5 separate regions of the Homo sapiens genome follow, and regions 1, 2, 3 and 4 are each reported to be linked to region 5. The links are microRNA targets in miRTarBase. Many come from high-throughput screens and were not tested one by one. Region 5 holds a microRNA gene; each other region holds the end of a gene's coding sequence. Distances are from middle to middle.

What was found. The annotated mature microRNA hsa-miR-6795-3p reads ACCCCUCGUUUCUUCCCCCAG and lies in region 5 at 1,885-1,905, opposite strand. An mRNA with a match to its seed (bases 2 to 7 or 8) in the 3' UTR can be bound and repressed. Matches are read on the target gene's strand: a 7mer-m8 pairs with bases 2 to 8, a 7mer-A1 pairs with bases 2 to 7 and ends in A, and an 8mer does both.
Region 1: the mRNA of QTMAN is a reported target of hsa-miR-6795-3p. The part of its 3' UTR that is shown has no 7-base or 8-base seed match.
Region 2: the mRNA of ANKRD65 is a reported target of hsa-miR-6795-3p. Seed matches in the 3' UTR shown: 7mer-A1 at 3,504-3,510 and 7mer-A1 at 3,474-3,480.
Region 3: miRTarBase lists SEPTIN9 as a target of hsa-miR-6795-3p. Seed matches in the 3' UTR shown: 8mer at 2,163-2,170.
Region 4: miRTarBase lists BBC3 as a target of hsa-miR-6795-3p. Seed matches in the 3' UTR shown: 7mer-m8 at 749-755.

What each region holds. Positions count from the first base shown.
Region 1 is chr2:143,943,780-143,947,813 of GRCh38, forward strand. It overlaps QTMAN (queuosine-tRNA mannosyltransferase), which reads right to left. Exons shown (of 12, transcript NM_001376312.2): 12 at 1-3,356. The coding sequence ends at 3,273. The region is part of intron 2 of QTMAN-AS1 (QTMAN antisense RNA 1); the gene reads left to right. Among named protein-coding and RNA genes, the nearest start is that of QTMAN-AS1, 8.7 kb to the left of the region's middle.
Region 2 is chr1:1,415,520-1,419,553 of GRCh38, forward strand. It overlaps ANKRD65 (ankyrin repeat domain 65), which reads right to left. Exons shown (of 4, transcript NM_001145210.3): 4 at 2,901-4,030. The coding sequence ends at 3,581. Among named protein-coding and RNA genes, the nearest start is that of ANKRD65-AS1, 2.6 kb to the right of the region's middle. RefSeq lists enhancers at 2,730-2,809, 2,977-3,426.
Region 3 is chr17:77,498,108-77,502,141 of GRCh38, reverse strand. It overlaps SEPTIN9 (septin 9), which reads right to left. Exons shown (of 12, transcript NM_001113491.2): 12 at 1,549-3,619. The coding sequence ends at 3,484. Among named protein-coding and RNA genes, the nearest start is that of MIR4316, 100 kb to the right of the region's middle.
Region 4 is chr19:47,218,250-47,222,283 of GRCh38, reverse strand. It overlaps BBC3 (BCL2 binding component 3), which reads left to right. Exons shown (of 4, transcript NM_014417.5): 4 at 366-1,460. The coding sequence ends at 482. Among named protein-coding and RNA genes, the nearest start is that of MIR3190, 6.7 kb to the left of the region's middle. RefSeq lists a silencer at 2,065-2,265.
Region 5 is chr19:15,177,399-15,181,462 of GRCh38, forward strand. MIR6795 (microRNA 6795) reads right to left here and starts at 1,952; the gene lies at 1,885-1,952. NOTCH3 (notch receptor 3) reads right to left here. Exons shown (of 33, transcript NM_000435.3): 18 at 3,563-3,764; 19 at 3,283-3,430; 20 at 2,674-2,858; 21 at 1,966-2,098; 22 at 1,627-1,884; 23 at 1,425-1,543; 24 at 127-692. RefSeq lists a silencer at 247-416 and an enhancer at 3,787-4,064.

The DNA.
Region 1 (4,034 bases), not on the chromosome of region 5:
TTGAAGGATGCTTATTAAACCAGGAGCATTTTTAAAAAGGTATTTGCATCTATTTCTGTCAACACAGTATAAATGAGAAGGTTAAGAACCAGGTGCCCTGATATTTGTTATAGAAACACCTAGCCAGAAGCATAGATTAAGTTTAGGGCAAGCTGTATTTCAAGACACTGTGTCAAAGTCTTGATAATGGATGGACTTTTAAAGACATTTAAAATTAAAATTGACTTTATTTTAAAAGAAAAAAACAATCGAGTGTTAAAAAAAAAGAGGAAGACTAAGTTTTCCATCAAACATACTCAAAACAATAAATGATGGGGGTGGTTGATAAGGGAAACTGAATTAATGAGTCAACGTGTAGTACTAATTATCTGCTGAGATTTCAACAAAATACTGATTAACTTATTTAATAACACTCCATTCCACTAGGTCGTGGGTGTTGAGAAGCATGAATGTGCGTGTGCACACACACACACACACACACACTCCTACATATTTTTAAATGTTAAGAATTACACATTTACAAAACTTTTTATTGCTTATGTGAACTAGTAGCAACTCTGACATTACAGTCTTTATAAGGTTTTTCTTTAAACTCCAAATCTCGGTATCATGCAAATAAGTGACACCTTTAATGTAATTTTTTTAAAATTTATTTTAAATTTATTTATTTATTTATTTTTTGAGACAGAGTCTCGCTCTGTCGCCCAGGCTGGAGTGCAGTGGCACGATCTCGGCTCACTGCAAGCTCCGCCTCCTGGGTTCACGCCATTCTCCTGCCTCAGCCTCCCCAGTAGCTGGGACTACAGGCACCCGCCACCATGCCTGGCTAATTTTTTTTGTATTTTTAGTAGAGATGGGGTTTCACCGTGTTAGCCAGGATGGTCTCGATCTCCTGACCTCATGATCCACCCGTCTCGGCCTCCCAAAGTGCTGGGATTACAGGCGTGCGCCACCGCACCCGGCCTAATGTAAGCTTTTGTCCTGGAAGGAATGTTGGCCACAGCTAATGGCAAAATTTGATTTGCATTTATGAGTGTAGAAAAAAATGCCCACATACAGGTAACTTTCAATATTATATTTGCCTAAATCAGGAAAATACGTAAATGTTTCAGATGTACTCTCTGAAAGGTGTTTAATGCTTTTTTTTTTTTTTTCCTATCAGTGAGAAAAGATCTATGGGTACTAGTTGTGTGTGGAGTATCTTAGCCACTATGAAGCGTAAGCCCATTTAGTTTCAGGATAGAAAAACACAGTAAACGAAGCGCTATTTCTTGGCTGTGAGATAATATTATTTTGAGAAGATGTCATCTGTGACACAGCAACTGACAGAAGCAAACTGACTCATCTGGTTTATCTCAGTAGATGGCATAAAGTATAACCTTGCCCAGGAGAAGTGGCAAAGAATTTCTTATTCATATTTATATCTTTAGTTTTGCTATCCAAAGGAACACACCTGCTAGATTCTGAGTTCCATAGTCTTAGACTGGAAGGAACTTCCAAAATAGTTCCTGAGCTCTTTGTTTTCTGGGTGACGAGGTAATTTGTTCACTGGCTTCCCTGTAAAAGTCTAGAAGCCAGTGCTGTGGTGGCCCATCACACACTGTGGGTCTCATGAAGGTTGGAGAGAGGAGTCTGTTCAGATGGAGCTTCTTGTTTCTGCTTCTTACTCTTCCTGCTTTTAAATTCCCAGGCCTCATAGACTCTGAACTGCTTGCTTCGATCTGCAATACTGCCTCTCTTCCAAGGGCTTTGTCTGGCTCCCTAACCTTGATCTATTTCGTGCTTTCGATTTTGCTACCGGTCAAATGGGCCCTACTGGACTTCCGAATCATTGCTTTCTTTATCTTAGATGCCTGCTAGGCCACTCGATCCTTCCAGAAGCTAGAAAGCCTGGCTTGCCCCTTGTCTAGCCACCTTTCCCAGGCTGTGCCTCACTTTGTGGTGTATAGAAGTTACTCATTTCAAAAGCTAGGGAAAGTTACAATTTACCTGTCAGTAAACAGAAGATGGTTTATCAACAGACTTTACCTTAATGACTACAAATGTTTACCTCCTGCTTTCCAGAATGCAAAGAAAATCTTGGAAATGTCATAATATCTTACAAACATTTGCAAAACAGATCCTTGTTCATCCGGAAAAGAAACAATTGTATTTGTTGTCTCTGTCACAAGGAAAACGTTCAGTGAGAAACACATAGGTAGATGTATACATCTATATGTAAATGAATATGCTAATTAAAAATTGCAGTGGGTACTTTATTAAGAATTTATTTTACCATCTAGCCATTCAAAACATCTTTACATCAACAAACACAGCAGTTTGACTATTGAAATCATAAGCGATTTATCTTGAAAAGGTTATATTTGTAGGTGGATGCAAGTATATTGGAGAAATATTTCTATCAAAATCACTGGTTTTGTTAGGAGTATTTTGATTTTTCTATTTTTACGCTGGGAAAAAAATTAAAACAAGTATGTCAGTGTTCATTTTATGGGATAGTTGGCTTCACTGTGTTTGTCATGTTTGTCCGAATTACAGCTGTTTATCTTGCAACTTTAAGATTAATTAAATGCAAATGTAACTCTGTGAATCATGGGAATACCTGCCAGACCTCTTATTAATACCTTCACTTAAAACCCCCTGTGCCTGAGAGTCATTAATTTGCTAAAAGAAAAGTGCTAAAGCAGCCCTTTGCCCACAAACAATTCTGCGATGGCTGCCCAATTAATCCCAAAGCATTCTGATCCTCCTTTCAGGCCTCGTGGCCCTTTGAGGACACAAGAAGGCTCCGATGATAACCTGGCAACCTAGGTAGAAACCCAGCCAAGTGTGAGCGTTTGAAGCTGCAGTTTGGCTGCCATCGTGTCGGCGAAAAGAAAGAATTCAGGCACCATGTCATCCAGTACAAAGGATAAAAACGGATTCAACCGGAAATTCAATGTGGCACCACATATGGGATACATGAGTGCGGTTATACAACAGGCCACATATTTTTTTTGAACAGTCTCCTACATGTGATGCCGAGGACATGTGTAACCATCATAACGTCTCTAGGAATCTGTATTTAATTTGAGTTGGGGTGGTGGCAGGGATTGGAGATCTGAAGCCGCCACAGGTTTGTGGCAGATGGCTCTGTGTCAGCTATGACAAGCAGCCAGGCTCAGCTTCCTCTGCAGATTTTCTTTTCTCTCTGATCAGGTAAATATGGGCACACTCTGGAAAGTTCTTCAGATTCTGCCTTAGGCTGCAAGTTTGTGACTTAGCCCCATCTGTCACAAATCTTCCCTAGGTTCTGTTGTAAGCAGAGACCTGAATTTACCATGTAGGGCTGCCCAAGAAAACGGAGCGATTTCACCCTGCAACGAGGAGGAGGGAGAGAAGAGAAAGAAGTGAAGAGCATTAATGACTAAAAGATGAAAGTATGCTGAAAATTTATATTGCAAATTTGCATCACTTACGTCAATTACATTTCAAAAAGCCACCAAGTAAATGGTTCTTGAGTTTCATCACCTCAGGAAATCTCAGTTTCTGATTGGTCTAAAGTGTCGTTGTATTTCCAACCAGAGAAGAAGGCTACTGTTTTCTGCAAATGGGTATATTCTGCTGCACACATATTTCTTGGTTTATGTTATGAATGACAACCATTCATAGTTGGATGATGAAAGTTCATCATCCAACTTTTAACTTATATAAACACAAGACACGTAACACTGTACATACAAGTTTCTGCCGTGAATTTTACTTTTAAATGATGAAGACACAAAGATAAATGCCATTACTATTATGTGAAATTTAAAAAGTGCTTCATATTTATAACAGGTTTATATTCATTATTTCATTATACCAGTACTTCAGGGGTACATTGATATTTAAAAAAATATTCTTCCAGGTTTACAGATGAATCACATAGAGGCCAAGAAGATCACCTAGAATCAGGTTGCAAATGAGTAGCAGAGAAGGACAAAACCTCTAACTGATCTTAATCAGCCAAAGCATATCTGTGATGCTAAAAGGTTTTTTCCTTTTATTTTATT
Region 2 (4,034 bases), not on the chromosome of region 5:
AAGCTTTAAATTGATCTGGTGTCCCTTGTGGGGCTCCAATTGCGTCTAAATAGATGTGAGAGTTGAAAGACCCATAAGGGGCTTCTCTCGCTTTACGATGTCTTTTTTTTTTTTTCTCCTCTGGTTGATGAAATGCCAGGGTGAAAGGGATAGCCAAACGGACTAAAGCACAAGTGCCACTCTAGTTATTCGGCAGAGTGCCCAGTACAGGTCCACCACAATACCACCACACATCCGCTCACATCCGCTCAGGGATGAACAAGGGCTGACTGATTGATAAGCTCTCGAAAATTCTTAAGCTCACTGCATCCCTTCCAGTCTCCAAGGACTGCTAAGTCTCCTCCCTGCCGTGAGAGACACGAAGGGAACTTAGTTTTGGGAGACGGAAGCTGGATGGCCCTCGGGGGCTGACCCGCAGGGACTGCAGAATGTAGCGGGGAGAGCTTGGCATGACTTGCTGCTCCAGGCTGTAGAATCCTGGAAAAGAGCTACCGTGCAGCCCACGCCTGGTCGACTGAAGGACCACCTTAGTGGAAGGGGGACAATCAGAGCCTTTGGCCTGCCATGTGCACGAGCATCACAATTGCTTTTGTTTAACATCAGATGGAATATCTGATCCATTTCAACCAGGCATTTTGCATCTTGGTATGCTGTCTTAATTGCCAAAGTTTGTTTTAAGTCTTAAACTTCCATGATCCTCTAGTAAAATGAATGTTTCCTTTAGCACCTATTTTTATTAGTTTTTAGACCAAAGAAAGCTAAACACCATTTTATATTTAATAATGCTTCTTGTATGATTTTTATACCAGATAAGCTAAATTTTACCTTTATATTAGTGTGTTATTAATGTTAAACTTAATTTTAATAAAACCTTGTAGACATATTTATCCAATTTTTCATGTTTGACCATAAGGTAAGATTTTATAGACTCTTTTTAACCTTTTATAACTTTTGTTAAAGAGCAGGTTGATGCTTTAAGAAAAACCTGTTGCATTTTTACTTTAATGTCCAGTTCACAGAAAAACTGGACGATACCTTTTTAACTTTAGTTAACATGTTTACACACAGAATTTTCTTTACAATTTACATTTTAAAACTTGCTTAAACTCTTAAAAACAATAATTTTTTTAACCTTTTAATGTAGGTAAAAATCCATATTTTTATGCCCCTTTATAATTTTTTTTACCAAAGGTATATTTTACTTTTCTTGTACACCTTGCACATAAACTTTTTTTTTTAATAGTACTCAGGGGCCAGGCGCGGTGGCTCACGCCTGTAATCCCAGCACTTTGGGGGGCCGAGGCGGGCGGATCACGCGGTCAGGAGATCGAGACCATCTTGGCTAACACGGTGAAACCCCGTCTCTACTAAAAATACAAAAAATTAGCCAGGCGTGGTGGCGGGCGCCTGTAGTCCCAGCTACTCGGGAGGCTGAGGCAGGAGAATGGCGTGAACCCGGGAGGCGGAGCTTGCAGTGAGCCGAGATCACGCCACTGCACTCCAGCCTGGGCAACAGAGTGAGACTCCGTCTCAAAAAAAAAAAAAAAAAAAATAGTACTCAGGAGGCCTTATTACTTTTAAATTATACAACATTTTTTGCATAAATTTTTTATAACATTTTGTTTTACAACTTTCGCCGACAATTCTTCAACATATCTCAACTTTCTGCCTTATTACAAACTTTTAAACAACCAGTTAATATATTTCAGGACAAGAATTTACCGTATAACATGCTTTTCACATAAATTCAGCCTCCCCTTTTTTTTTCTTTTTTAAAGCGAACTTTTTTTATGTCTTTGGACTAGACTGTCTGAGGCCACAAGATTAAAAGTTACCATTAACATGTTACACTGTTAACTTTTAGCAAACTTCGCTTTTGTTGAAAACCTTGGAAGTTTGGGATTTCAATTATCCTTTGCTATTAATAAGACCTTGTTTAGTCTAAATTAACTTAGAATTGGTATAGATGGCCTCTTTTTCTCTCTGCTGGTCTTTCCTTGCCTCTGCCAGCCGCTTATGCTGCTGTTCTCTTAACTACCGTAGGGGGGAGGGGGTCTAAAACCTGCTCTAACTGTCCATGTACGGAAACTGGCCTGGGTGCCTTGGCTTACACGTTACCTTGTGTCATACCTTTGAAACAAGGGACCTGTCCAGGCTTCCTTCTGATGGCCAACCCACCTCTAATGCTGACAAGTCTATTTCACACAAAGTTGTAAGTTTTCCTGGTGTCAGAGTAACACCGTAATCTCCCTTAAATTCTTTCTTGAAAAATTTTTTTTAACATAGTTCCTAGTGGGGTGGGCTTATCTGTGCCTGACCCACGCTTCTTCAAGACAAAACACCACGCTCACACCACAAAACAAAAAACAGGTAAAAAGGGCACACACACACTTTTGCAGTTTACACCAAACCAAAATCAAAACCAAAATCAGAGTATCCAGAAATCCAAGCCAGGTCAAAACCAAAACCAAAGTATCACATGATCTCAGTCAAGTCAAAACCAGAACAAAGGTGCTAATGCAGGCACGCCGTGGGCGATCAGGCCACGCGTCTACTCAGGTGGAGTGGGGCAAGTTCCAAAGACTAGTCTTACCAGGTTTCAGATGTCCGGACTCCAAGTGCCAGTTCCTTCCCGGTGTTCAGCCACTGTGTTAATCCACCATGGGGGCCCGTTATGGGCTGCTCTGGCGAGGTGTTCCACCGAGGCAATTTCCTACCCGGGAGCGCTCTTTAGCTCACGTCACTCAGGCTGGCCGGAGTCCCCCGCAGGGATGCTCCACGGGGCAGGCCTAAGCCGCCTAAGGGGCTGCCTCGGTCGTCTGTCAGTTACCTCGTTTCCCAGTCAGGGAACCAAGAAATGTAGCAGGACGAGCCGCAGACAAAACCTCTCAGACACCCAGTTGTAGAAGGAAGGGCTTTATTCAGCTGGGAGCATCGGCAAGCTACTGCCTTAAAATCCGAGCTCCCCAAGTGCACAATTTCTGTCCCTTTTAAGGGCTCACAACACCGAAGATTTCACATGAAAGGGTCGTCATTGATTTGAGCAAGCAGGCGGTACGTGACAGGGGCTGCATGCACCGGCGGTCAGAGAGAAACAGAACACGGCAGGGAGTTTCACAAATGTTCTTCTATACAATGTCTGGAATCTATGAATAACATCGGTTTCTAAGTTATGAATTGATTTTCAACTACTGGGTTTAGGCCAGGCAGGCGCAGGCCTGGTTTCGGGCCTAGCGCCAGGCTGCCTGCCTGTCTTTGGTTTTACTTCCTTGTTGTTTTTTCTTAAAACAGGTACTGAGTATAAAACACTATGAGAGGGTCTCTCTTCCCTCATTGCCACAACTCATTCTTTGTTGAAGTATGGAGAAGGCTGGAGCTGCAGGGTCAGTGGGCCCTCCTGGGAGCTGGGGGCCATCCCTGGTCCAGCCAAGGCCTGTGACTGCAGCTCAAGCCACATCCCCTACTTTCTCCCATCCCCTCCTCCGGAAGCCTCTTCCCTGATGTCCCCTCCAGGCAGGCAGCCTCAGCCAGAGAGCCTGGAAATCACTGGGGCGGTGGAGCCTGGAGCCTGCTGTCTGGCTCAGCCCGTGGACTCTATGCCCTCACACTCCTTCTCCCCCCCTCCAAGTTCAGGCAGCGCCTGGGGCAGGTCCCCCTCAGGCATCTGGGCCACCTCGGCCCACTGCGTCCGCAGAGTGGGGCTGGCCCCTCGGCTCAGCAGAAGCCCCACGGTAGGCCCATGCCCTCGCTCTGCAGCCAGGTGTAGGGGGGTCTTTCGGAGCCAGCCGGTAGCATCCACCTGGGCACCCCTGTCCAGCAGGCAGCCGGCAACCTCCACGTGGCCTTCCCGAGAGGCGTGATGCAGGGGTGTGAGGCCCAGGGTGTCCCGCGCATCCACCTCGGCCCCCTGGGTGACCAGCAACTGGACGGCAAGCAGGTGTCCTCGGGCGGCAGCCCTGTGCAGCGCAGAGCGGCCATGCCTGTCCCTGATGCCTGGGTCTGCCCCGTGGCCCAGCAGCACCTCAATGTCCTAG
Region 3 (4,034 bases), not on the chromosome of region 5:
AAGGTGAGGATCTAAATGAGATCGAACTGAATCAAGGTGGGCCCTCAGTCCTGGAAGAGTGCCCTCTTGGCCCTCTTGACCCTCCAGGACAGAGAGAGAGAAGGCTGTGAAGACGGAGGCAGAGATGGGGTGAAGTGGCCAGCAGGAGCTGGGGGAGGAGAGAGGAACCTCCTCTAGAGCCTTTGGAGGGAGCGAGGCCCTGGGACACCTGGATCTCAGACCTCTGGCCTCTAGAACTGTGAGAATAAATTTCCGCTGTTTTCAGCCCTGCTGCATGGTCATCTGTTAAGGCAGCTGCAGGGCACTAATACACGTGGGAGAAGGGATCCGGGTGAGGCCCTTCTGCACACGCAAAGGGCATACGGACCAGAGCTCCCTGAACCTTACTTCCTAAGCTCACCTGCAAAGAAAAGCTCACTCAGCCAAGGCTCTGACTTCTAATCTATTTGGAATCAAGTTCTCTTGGAATGAGTTAGGTTGGCATAAAACAACTGTCAAATACTGACCAGTCTGGAGTTCAATCTAATATAAATTTCTAAAAGAAAAACTTACTGTCAGCCAGGCATAGTGGCTCACGCCTATAATCCCAGCACTTCGGGAGGCCAAGGCAGGAGGATCACCTGAGGCCAGGAATTTGAGATCAGCCTGGGCAACATAGTGAGATCCCATCTTGACAAAAAATGAAAAAGTTAGCCAGGTGTGGTGGTGCACACCTGTGGTCCCAGCTACTCAGGAGGATCGCTTGAGCCTGGAAGGTAGAGGCTGCAGTGAGCTGTGATCGTGCCGCCGCACTCCAACCTGGGTTACAGAGCAAGACCCTGTCTCAAAAAATAAAACAGAAAAAGTTATTTTCAAGGATACACTAACTAGAAGCAGCTCACAGCGCCCCCTGTGGACGCCCTTCAGATCCCCCACTTTAATGAAAGCGTTCAGATCTGCCATTCACTTTTCAGTCATCTCCGCTGAGTGCTTCTCAAGCCCTGGGAACTTTTACCCCAGGTAGATTAAACAACGCCCCAGCAATCGCCTTGATGCTATTCTCACTCTTCACAGTGCTCTGGAATTATAAGTTCTCAGGGAGTTTGTTAGTTTCAAATCTTGGGAGTCTGAATTCGAGATCTGACCTGGCCTTACCTTTTCTTTTTTTTTTTTTTTTGAGATGGCATCTTGCTCTGTCGCCCAGGCTGGAGTGCAGTGGCATGATCTTGGCTCACTGCAACCTCTACCTCCCGGGGTTCAAGCGATTCTTCTGCCTCAGCCTCCCGAGTGGCTGGGACTACAGGCGCCCACCACCATGCCCAGCTAATTTTCGTATTTTTAGTAGAAACGGGGTTTCACCATATTGGCCAGGCTGGTCTCAAATTCCTCACCTTGTGATCCAACTGCCTCAGTCTCCCAAAGTGCTGGGATTACAGGCGTGAGCCACCGCGCCCGGCCTACCTTTTCTTGCCCATGCTTCTTGCCCACCTGCAGCTGACCCCAACCTGTCCCGAGGCCCAAAGAACTGCACTTCAGGGGCAGAAAAAACATTCTCACTCAGGAGCCTTCTGGGTTTCTGCATTTGAAACATTTATTTCAGGAAATACATTTTCAACACTTTGTCATTTATACAAAAAGACAAATTTCTCGGGAGGCACGTAGCAAAAGGCCATTGAGGAACAGAGCCTGATGAAACGAACAATTTTTCAAAGTCTGGTTACAGAGAAGGAAAGTGAAGCATCTCAAGGCTGGGATGCTGCTGCCCACCCCCACCCCACCCCGCCACCAAGTGACATTGAGGCTGGGCAGGCCACATGGCCTGGGCCCTGGCGCTGGCCACTCATTTCCTTCAAAATCTTGGTTTTGGCAAAAACATGGCAAGTTGGCAAAGTAAACTGTCTCACCAGTGGGGGTGGTGAGGGGTCCTTCCTCTCTTGGGTGGGGAGGGAGTCAGACGCCCAGTGCCCCAACTTCCATGCACACACACTCACACTCATACACTCCTTCTCGCTGACCTTCTCCTGGCTGCAAGCAGCCAGCCCGGTGCCTGCAGATGCACCTGGTGATGTGTGCACCTGAGTGGAGTCTCATCAGGCCCCTCTTTCTCCCCAGGAGCAAGACAGGTAACAGGAAGCAGGAAGGGACTTTGGTCATCTGTGCCCTGCAAAGACAGCCCCCATGGGTCCCCTCGTGGGGACAGAGGGTGAGGGGCCGGGCCGTGCTGCCACGAAACCTTGCTCTTCAGCTGTGGACTGTGCACCCCTGACGCCCGTTCTCTCCTTTCTAGGGGTTCGTTACCATGGGCTCTGAGGGGAGGGGCCCAGGCACGGGTAGATCAACAGAGTCAGGCTCGCCTGGCCTCCCACCTCCCCAGCTCAGAGAGTCAGCAAGGCCTGGGCCAGGAAGGGTGAGTGGCAGGGGTGGCTGGCTGGGCATTAATGTAACTACAGCCCAGTCTTGGGCCAAACCCAGACACTAGACAGACAGACGGACACGCATACACATGGACACACACACACTTCCCTGGTCACTTGGGCAGGGCAGGCGCCGGGCAGCTCACGCCACTCTGACCAGCCCAAGCCACGGCCCACACGTGCCCCCGCCAACCTTCCTTCTGGCACCTTCCATGGCTCCCTCCCTCAGCTCCTCCACCAGACTCACTTGCTTAGACCTTTTCAAAACTGGGGGATGAGGGGGTAGGGGTCATCTCTCCTTCCTTTTTATCCTCAATCAGATCCCAGCGCATCAGCAGCACCTGCAGCCCGGTGGGGGCGGGGGTGGCGTGAGAGGGGGATGGCAGGGAGATGAAGACGCCTCCCTCATTCCAGCCTGTCCCCGCATCTGGCCAAGCAGTCTGCGGATGGCTGAGATAAAGGCACTTTCTGCTCCAGGAGGGGCAGCTGCCAGGGGGCTTGGAGTGGCTGGGCAGTCGGTGGCAGGGGACCCTGGAGTTTTCTACCCTTAGGAGCAGGGCAGGGGTAGGGGCTGAGTGATGGCCACACCATGTGGCGGGCAGGGGGTCCAGGTGCTCCTGGTGGGCTGCATTCTCCCCTGGGCTCTGACACACTCCAGGGGACAGGGCCGATGGGGATGGAGGGGAGCGTGCAGCCCACTGGGCTCCTCTGCAAGTGCGAGGCCTGGCCCCCACCCCAAGGCCTCCGGCACTGAGAACCCCACACAGACGGATGATCTGCACACCGAAGCTGCTCTTCTGAGCCCTCGGGGAGCCAGGCCTGGGGACAGAGGGTCATGTCAATTCAGTGGGTGCTCTCACCCCTGCCTGTGGCTCCAGTGCAGCCTCCCCACAACCTCGGGGAGGCCGCGGCCTCATCACTGACTCACTCGGAGGGAGGCCCCTTCCCTTGTTTCCTGGCAGCATGTCGAAGGGGTGGGGAACGATGACAAATGGAGAAAATCATATAAAATAAAATGGGGTGGTGGGAGGGCCTGGGGGGGGACGGAAATGACTTGGGGGCAGGATCCCGGGGGTGGGCAGGGTGGCGTCTACATCTCCGGGGCTTCTGGCTCCTTCTCCTCCATGCCGTTGGCCATGGCGCTGCTGCCCTCGTTGAGGCGCTTCACACGGTACGCCTCGAAGTGGATGCTGCTGGTGATGTCCTTGATGTTCTGCATGTGCGTCCTGTGGGGGTGGGGGGCGGGCGGGTCAGTGAGGTGGGCGCAGCGGGGTGGGGGCAGCGGGGCAGGGGCCCTGCTCGGCCTGCCTCGGACTCAGGCCCGCCTGCCCCCACCCCCACTCCCCATCCCGACTGCTTGGCTCCCCATGGGGTCCCCCAGGCCCACCATGTTGGACCAGATCTGGTACACGTTTTGGGGGAAGGGTCAGTCCCCCTGGTAAGCCCAGACTCGGTCAGAACACACATATTCCAGTGCATGTGTCTCCCTCTGGGTCCACCCTATGGCCCTGGGTCCAGGGCCCAGGGACAGTGCATAGACTCAGAGGGACAGGGCTGGAGCATTGTTGCTCCAGGCCGGTGTCCAGGGTGCTGGCAGGGTGGAAGCAGTGGGTGACCACCGGCCTCCAGGACTATGGCCTG
Region 4 (4,034 bases), 32 Mb from region 5:
TCCTTTCTCCTCATCTTGCCAGCCCTGTAGGGAGGGGCAGGATAGGTTGCAGTCCATCCTTCAGCCCCTTGGGGGATGTCTTTCTCAAATGTACAACAGAGACGGGGCAGTCACAGCTAATGTGCCACGCACTCGCTTGGTGCCCAGCTCTCTGCTGAAGGCATTCCGTGTTTGTCCTCTGCCTCCAGGTCTCATGTCCTGGATGAGGATGTGACCTCCGAGACATGGACATTAGCCCAGGCGGGGGGAGGAGCTGGAATAGGGTGGGCGAGACTGTCGCCTCGCTGCCCCTGGAGCTGACCATCCCCACTCCCATCACCATACTCAGTCCCCTGCTAACTGCCCCTTCTCTCTCTTTTCCCCAGAGACAAGAGGAGCAGCAGCGGCACCGCCCCTCACCCTGGAGGGTCCTGTACAATCTCATCATGGGACTCCTGCCCTTACCCAGGGGCCACAGAGCCCCCGAGATGGAGCCCAATTAGGTGCCTGCACCCGCCCGGTGGACGTCAGGGACTCGGGGGGCAGGCCCCTCCCACCTCCTGACACCCTGGCCAGCGCGGGGGACTTTCTCTGCACCATGTAGCATACTGGACTCCCAGCCCTGCCTGTCCCGGGGGCGGGCCGGGGCAGCCACTCCAGCCCCAGCCCAGCCTGGGGTGCACTGACGGAGATGCGGACTCCTGGGTCCCTGGCCAAGAAGCCAGGAGAGGGACGGCTGATGGACTCAGCATCGGAAGGTGGCGGTGACCGAGGGGGTGGGGACTGAGCCGCCCGCCTCTGCCGCCCACCACCATCTCAGGAAAGGCTGTTGTGCTGGTGCCCGTTCCAGCTGCAGGGGTGACACTGGGAGGGGGGGGCTCTCCTCTCGGTGCTCCTTCACTCTGGGCCTGGCCTCAGGCCCCTGGTGCTTCCCCCCCTCCTCCTGGGAGGGGGCCCGTGAAGAGCAAATGAGCCAAACGTGACCACTAGCCTCCTGGAGCCAGAGAGTGGGGCTCGTTTGCCGGTTGCTCCAGCCCGGCGCCCAGCCATCTTCCCTGAGCCAGCCGGCGGGTGGTGGGCATGCCTGCCTCACCTTCATCAGGGGGTGGCCAGGAGGGGCCCAGACTGTGAATCCTGTGCTCTGCCCGTGACCGCCCCCCGCCCCATCAATCCCATTGCATAGGTTTAGAGAGAGCACGTGTGACCACTGGCATTCATTTGGGGGGTGGGAGATTTTGGCTGAAGCCGCCCCAGCCTTAGTCCCCAGGGCCAAGCGCTGGGGGGAAGACGGGGAGTCAGGGAGGGGGGGAAATCTCGGAAGAGGGAGGAGTCTGGGAGTGGGGAGGGATGGCCCAGCCTGTAAGATACTGTATATGCGCTGCTGTAGATACCGGAATGAATTTTCTGTACATGTTTGGTTAATTTTTTTTGTACATGATTTTTGTATGTTTCCTTTTCAATAAAATCAGATTGGAACAGTGGATACTCTTTCTGCTTGCCTTCCCTGCAGCCTGGCCTTGGAGAGGCTTCTGATCGGGGGCTCTGCTCTGTGAGCCCTGCTTGTGAGTGGGTGGGAGAGGTGGGCCCTGGCAGTTGTGGCTCCATCAGAAGAAAGGCTAAGGGGCCTGGGCTTCTCCAGACCGGGACGCTCCTAGCCTTCATCATCCCCATTCCCGGTAAAAGTGAAGCTTGGCCTGGTGCCATGGCTCATGCCTGTAATCCCAGCACTTTGAGAGGCCGAGGTGGGTAGATCTCTTGAACCCAGGAGTTCAAGACCATCCTGGGCAACACGATGAAACTCCGTCTCTACAAAAATAAAAAAATAAAAAAAATTAGCCAGGCATGGTGGTGTGTGTCTGTAGTCCCAGCTACTCAGGAGGCTGAGGCAGGAGGATCACTTGAGCCCAGGAATTGGAGGCTGCAGTGAGCGATGATCAAGCCACTGCACTCAAGCTTGGGTGACAGGGTGAGACCCTGTCTCAAAAACAAAATAAAAAGTGAAGTCCCCATGAGGTGTTGTAGGGGCGCTTGATATTTAATGGATGAGTGAATGACCCGTAACATATTCAGAGGCACCACTGTGACAAGTGCTTGGGATAGAGTCATGAGACAGACCTCGTTTCTGCCGTCACAGAGACAGAAAGGGACATCTGGCCTTGCACTGTGATCAGCCGTAGGCTGCCTCTCCAGCTGGAGGAGCACCTGGAGCTAAGATCACAGTGAGTCTCCGCACACTGCCCTGAGGCCTAACCAGGCTGGTCATAAGCGGCTGTGTTGAGTAAATGTAGAAAGGGTTGCTCCTACTGCCATCTTCTGCAAACAGGGCCATGGCCACACACTGCCCTTGAGCCCTTTCCCTGTGCTGATACCTGACTGGCAGAGACCTCAATGAGAAGCAGGGAGGTAGGCAGATCACCTGAGGTCAGGAGATCGAGACGAGCCTGACCAACATGGCGAAACCCCGTCTCTACTAAAAATACAAAAATTAGCTGAGCGTGGTAGCGAGTGTCTGTAATCCCAGCTACTGAAGAGGCTGAAGCAGGAGAATTGCTTGAACCTAGGAGATAAAGGTTACAGCGAGCCAAGATCCTGCCATTGCATTCTAGCCTAGGTGACAGAGCAAGACCCTGTCTGGAAGGAAGGAAGGAAGGGCATAATCCCAACACTTTGGGAGGCCAAGGTGGGCGAATCACCTGAGATCAGGAGTTCGAGACCAGCTTGGCCAACATGGTGAAACCCTGTCTCTACTAAAAATACAAAAATTAGCCAGGTGTGGCGATGCAAGCCTGTAGTCCCAACTACTCGAGAGGCTGAGACAGGAGAATCCCTTGAACCCGGGAGGCAGAGGTTGCAAGTGAGCCGAGATTGCACCACTGTACGCCAGCCTGGGCGACAGAGGGAGACTGTCTCCAGAAAAAAAAAAAAAAGGAAAGAAAGAGAAAGAAGCAAGGTATAGGCCAGGTGTGGTGGCTCACACCTGTAATCCCAGCACTTTGGGAGGCCGAGGCGGGTGGATCATGAGGTCAGGAGATCGAGACCATCATGGCTAACAAGGTGAAACCCCGTCTCTACTAAAAATACAAAAAATTAGCCGGGCGCGGTGGCGGGCGCCTGTAGTCCCAGCTACTCGGGAGGCTGAGGCAGGAGAATGGCGTGAACCTGGGAAGCGGAGCTTGCAGTGAGCCGAGATTGCGCCACTGCAGTCCGCAGTCCGGCCTGGGCGACAGAGCGAGACTCCGTCTCAAAAAAAAAAAAAAAGAACAGCCTAGAAACATAGCAAGACTCCATCTCCACACACACAAAAATAATTTTTTTAATTCGCTGGGCATGGTGGCACATGCCTATAGTACCCACTACTCAGGAGGATGAGGCAGGGGGATCATAGCTTGAGCCCAGGAGTTGGAAGCTACAGTGAACTATGATCATGCCACTGCACTCCAGGGCAACAGAGGGGGACTCTGAAGCAGGGTATATAATTATATAATATTTACAGACACAGGGTCAGTCCCAGCTCCACCCTTTCCCAACTGTCCTTGCTGCTAAAGGGACACTAGGGGAAATGGCCCATCTGGATGGCCAGGGTGTGGTAACTGGCAACAATCACTTTGGAGAAGCATTTGATAAAACCGTGTGTTGGGATACGAATGTGTCCCCCAAAGTTCTTGGGTTGGAAATTTAACCTGCAGTGCTACAGATTTTAGAAGTGAGACATTTAAGAGATAATTACGTCACCAGGGCTCTGCTCTCAGAAATGCACTAATGCCATGACCATGGAAGTGAGTGAGTTTTCACGGGAATGGATTCCTTATAAAGAATGAGTTCACCCCTCTGTCTCAGATGAGATGCCTTCCGCTATGTTACAAGGAAGCCGGAAGGCCCTCACCAAATACCAGCCCCACCATCTGGGACTTTTCAACCTTCAGATTTGTGAGCCCATAGATTTCTCTTTTTTTTTTTTTTTTTTTTTTTGAGAGGGAGTCTCGCTCTGTCTCCCACAGAATCTCACTCTGTCTCGCAAGCTGGAGTGCAGTGGCACAATCTCAGTTCACTGCATC
Region 5 (4,064 bases):
AGATAGAGTGCACAGAGAAACAGACGGGGCAAGTGGATGGGCAGGTGGAAAGAGAGGCAGGGCCCACGGACAAACAGACTGGGATGGATGCATAGACAGACGGATCGATCGGGTGGATGGGCTCACTTGCAAGTGCGCTCGCGGCCACCGGCGTGGCAGTCGAAGTTGTCGTAGAGGCAGGCGGGCGAGCTGCAGGCGGGGTCGCAGCGGCTGTTGTTGAAGAGGCGCCAGCACTGCAGCGCCTCGCATTGCCGCCAGGGGTCGCCCACGCTCAGCGAGCAGTCGCCGCCGTCCCAGCCGCAGCCTGGGCTGTTGCACTCGCGGTCGCAGCGCTGGTCCCCGCGCTTGGCCTGGCAGGCGGCGCGCGGGCACCGCGGCTCCTCCGAGACCTCGGGTGCCGCGGCGGGCGCCTCGCAGCGCGGCCCGGTCCAGCCCTGCGCGCAAGCGCAGCGGAAGAAGGGCGCGAGCGGCGCGGGGCGGCAGGAGCCCCCGTGGAGACAGGGGGCGGCCGCGCAGCTGGCGTTGCTGGCCCCCGGCGGCGACCCCGGGAAGCTGCGGCAGGAGGGTCCCGACAACCCTGGGGGGCAGGCGCAGCGCGGCCCGCGGGGCGTCTGCTGGCATGGGACGCCCACCGGGCACTGCAGCTCCCGGCAGGAGCGCGCCACCCGCTCGCAACGCGGACCCCAGAACGGCTGGGGGTCGGGTTTGGGGAGGGAGGGATAAAAATGAGGGTGGGGAGTGGAGGGAAGGAGGAGAAGAAATGGAGGAGTGGGGAAAAGAAGAGTCAAGGGGAGAGAGGGGGAAGAGAAGAGGTCAAGACTAAGGAAGGTTGAGACCCCCTCAACCTCCCCATGTCCCACCCAACCGCTCCCCTTTCCACACTGGAGACCCCACCTGGCAGATAAGCCCTGCCATCCCAGGAGGCCACGCCCCCCAATCACCATCCTCACCCTTTTCCCTTCAAACCTCCAGGAAATGTCGGGGCAGGGGGTTGTTTCTTTGTTTTTTGAGACGGAGTGTCACTCAGTCGCCAGGCTGGAGTGCAATGGCGTGATGGCTCACTGCAACCTCCGCCTCCCGGGTTCAAGTGATTCTCCTGCCTCAGCCTCCCGAGTAGCTGGGATTACAGGCAGCTGCCACTACGCCCGGCTAATTTTTATATTTTTAGTAGAGACGGGGTTTCACCATGTTGCCCAGGCTGGTCTCTAACTCCTGGCCTCAAGTGATCCTCCCGCCTCGGCCTCCCAATGTGCTGGGATTACAGGTGTGAGCTACCACACCCGGCGGAAATGTCAGCATTTTCCAGAAACTCCCTTCCCTTCGATGTCTCCCCTAAAGCCACATCCTCCTCCTAGACGCCACGCCCCTACTACTCCAGAGGCCACGCCCCTACTCCTCCTCCAAAGGCCGCCACCCACACCTACCTGGGCACAGTGACAGGTGAAGGTCAGCCCACCCCCAGGACCCGGGCTAGGACGGCACTGGCCTCCATGCTGGCATGGCTGGGACTCGCAGGGAGACAGGACAGTCTGACAGCGAGGACCTGAGCGAGCGGGAGCATGTAGATCAGCCACAATGGGGGAATGACAGGCGGGGTCCCAGGCCAGCCCCTTCGCCAACGCTTACCTGAGAAGCCAGCATGACAAAGGCAACGGAAACCTCCGCCTGGGTCCTGCAGGCAGTCCCGGGTGTGTGCCGCGTGGCAGGCACCTGAGCGACACTCATTGATGTCTGCCTCGCAGCGCAAACCAGTGTATCCTGGGGGACAGGTGCAGCGGAAACCACCCACCAGGTCCACGCAGGTGCCATTGTGTAGGCACCGGGGCCCTGAGTCCAGCGGTGGGCCTGGGCCGCAGTCATCCTCATTAATCTCGCAGAGCACCCCTGGGGGAAGAAACGAGGGGTGGTCAAGAGGGAATGAAGACAGCCTCTCATCCTGTCCCCCCAACCCTGGCCCTGGCATACCCAGCGTTCCTGGGGGACAGGAGCAGAGATAGCGGGCCACGAGGTCAATGCATGAACCCCCGTGCTGGCAGGGCTGGGAGGCACACTCGTCCACGTCGTCCTCACAGTTATCACCATTGTAGCCAGGAAGACACTTCAGTGGGGTAAGAGAGGGACCCACTCAGCTTAGTGGGACACAGACCCACCTGGACATACCCATGAAGACGCAAAGAACCCCAGCACAAAAGGACACACACAGATGTTCAGCGCACTACCAGTAGGTAATCCCAGCACTTTGGGAGGCCGAGGTGGGCAGATCACCTGAGATCAGGAGTTCGAGACCAGCCTGGCCAACATGGTGAAACCCTGTCACTATGAAAAATACAAAAATTAGCTGGGCGTGGTGGTGGGTGCCTGTACTCCCAGCTATAATGAGAGGCTGAAGCAGAAGAATCACCTGAACCCAGGAGGCAAAGGTTGCAGTGAGCTGAGATCGCGCCACTGCACTCGTCTGGGTGACAGAGTGAGAACCTGTCTCAAAAAAACAAACAAATAAAAAAACACCCCAGATCTACCCAGAGTGACACCCACAGATACACCAAGAGTCACAAAAGCAAAAACTCAGACATATCTAGAGACATACCCATACCAAGCCACACAGAAATGTGTGCCCAGACGCACCCAAGCATGCCCACCTCCTCTTCCCTCTCCTGGGGAGCGCCCCCTTACCTCACACATGTAGCCCCCCATATAGCCACGGCAGGTCCCCCCATGCTGGCAGGGCTGGGCCAAGCAGGGGTCCACCTCCTGCTCACAGTGGCTACCAGTACGGCCCTCTGGGCACACGCAGTAGTGGGAGCTGTCTTCATCCACACACTGCCCACCCGCCTGACACAGCTGCTCCAGCCGCACCCCTGCAAAGAGGAGAGTGGCACAGGAACAGAGGTAACCCCATACATCCCCCTTCTGCCTCCATCACACAGATCATTCAACATCCTTGGTGGAATGAGTCCCCAGGATCGCACCCACACTCCATCAGGTTGTCACACATCCCCCCAGCAGGCAAGGTCTCATCACTGACATACACACACATGCCTTCAACGCTCACAGCAGCTCGGTCACACCCTGTAGCACACACACCATCCCTGCTGTCTCACAGTGACAGACACACACCATCCCGGCCAGTTGTCACATGCTCACACACCCACACCACTCAGCCACACACCCCATCATGCCCCATAGGCTCTGTGGCACCCCCATTCGGCTCACACTAGCAGGAGGTACGTGCATGAGCCCCTTCCCAAGGCCCCACACGCCCGCCCACATGCTCCCACTCACCGATCTGGGCTGCGGCCTCCCTGCAGGGCAAGCTTCGGATGTCACAGAGGCGTCCGCTCCATCCAGGGGGACAAAGGCAATAGGCCCCAGTCTGGACGCAGCGACCCCCGTTTTGACAAGGCTGGCGGCTGCACCAATCCACCAGCGTCTGGAGGGGAAGCACTCAGAGTCAGTACTGTGGGGTGGGGGGTAGTCTGGGAGAAACTGTGCCCCGACTTGGCTTCTCCCTCCTAGGATCCCAGGCAGGCTCCTCCCCCAGGTCCCCAGTAACTCCACCCACCTGGCACTGCGGGCCCGTGAAGCTCTCGAGGCAGGTGCAGCGGAAGCCAGGGTGGGCGGCGCTGCAGACGCCCCCGTGTAGGCAGGGCCGCGAGAGGCAGGGGTCTGCCTCATGTTGGCAGTGGGCTCCTGTGTAGCCGGGACGGCACAGGCAGCTGAACGAGTTCACGCCGTCCACACAGGTCCCGCCATTGAAGCAGGAGCTGGAGCGGAAGGAGTGGGAGGGAGGATCAGGCTCCGCCCCCTCACAGGCCCTGCCCTCCTTCCTGAGTCCCGCTGTTAGCGCTGGGGACGTCCCACTCCCTGACCCTTATCTCGGCAAGAAGCTGCAGCCCCAGCAGAAGCCAATCAGGTCCCTTAGCTCCAATTCACCAGGGACTTCAGCCCTAAGGTGAGAGCCACCTGGAAGCCATGCCCTCTCAGGCACCAGAGACTCCAAGGTGAGCTCCAAACAGACGCCCTGCTCCTTCCCTGGCCCTGCCCCATCAGTCATCAGAGTCCGC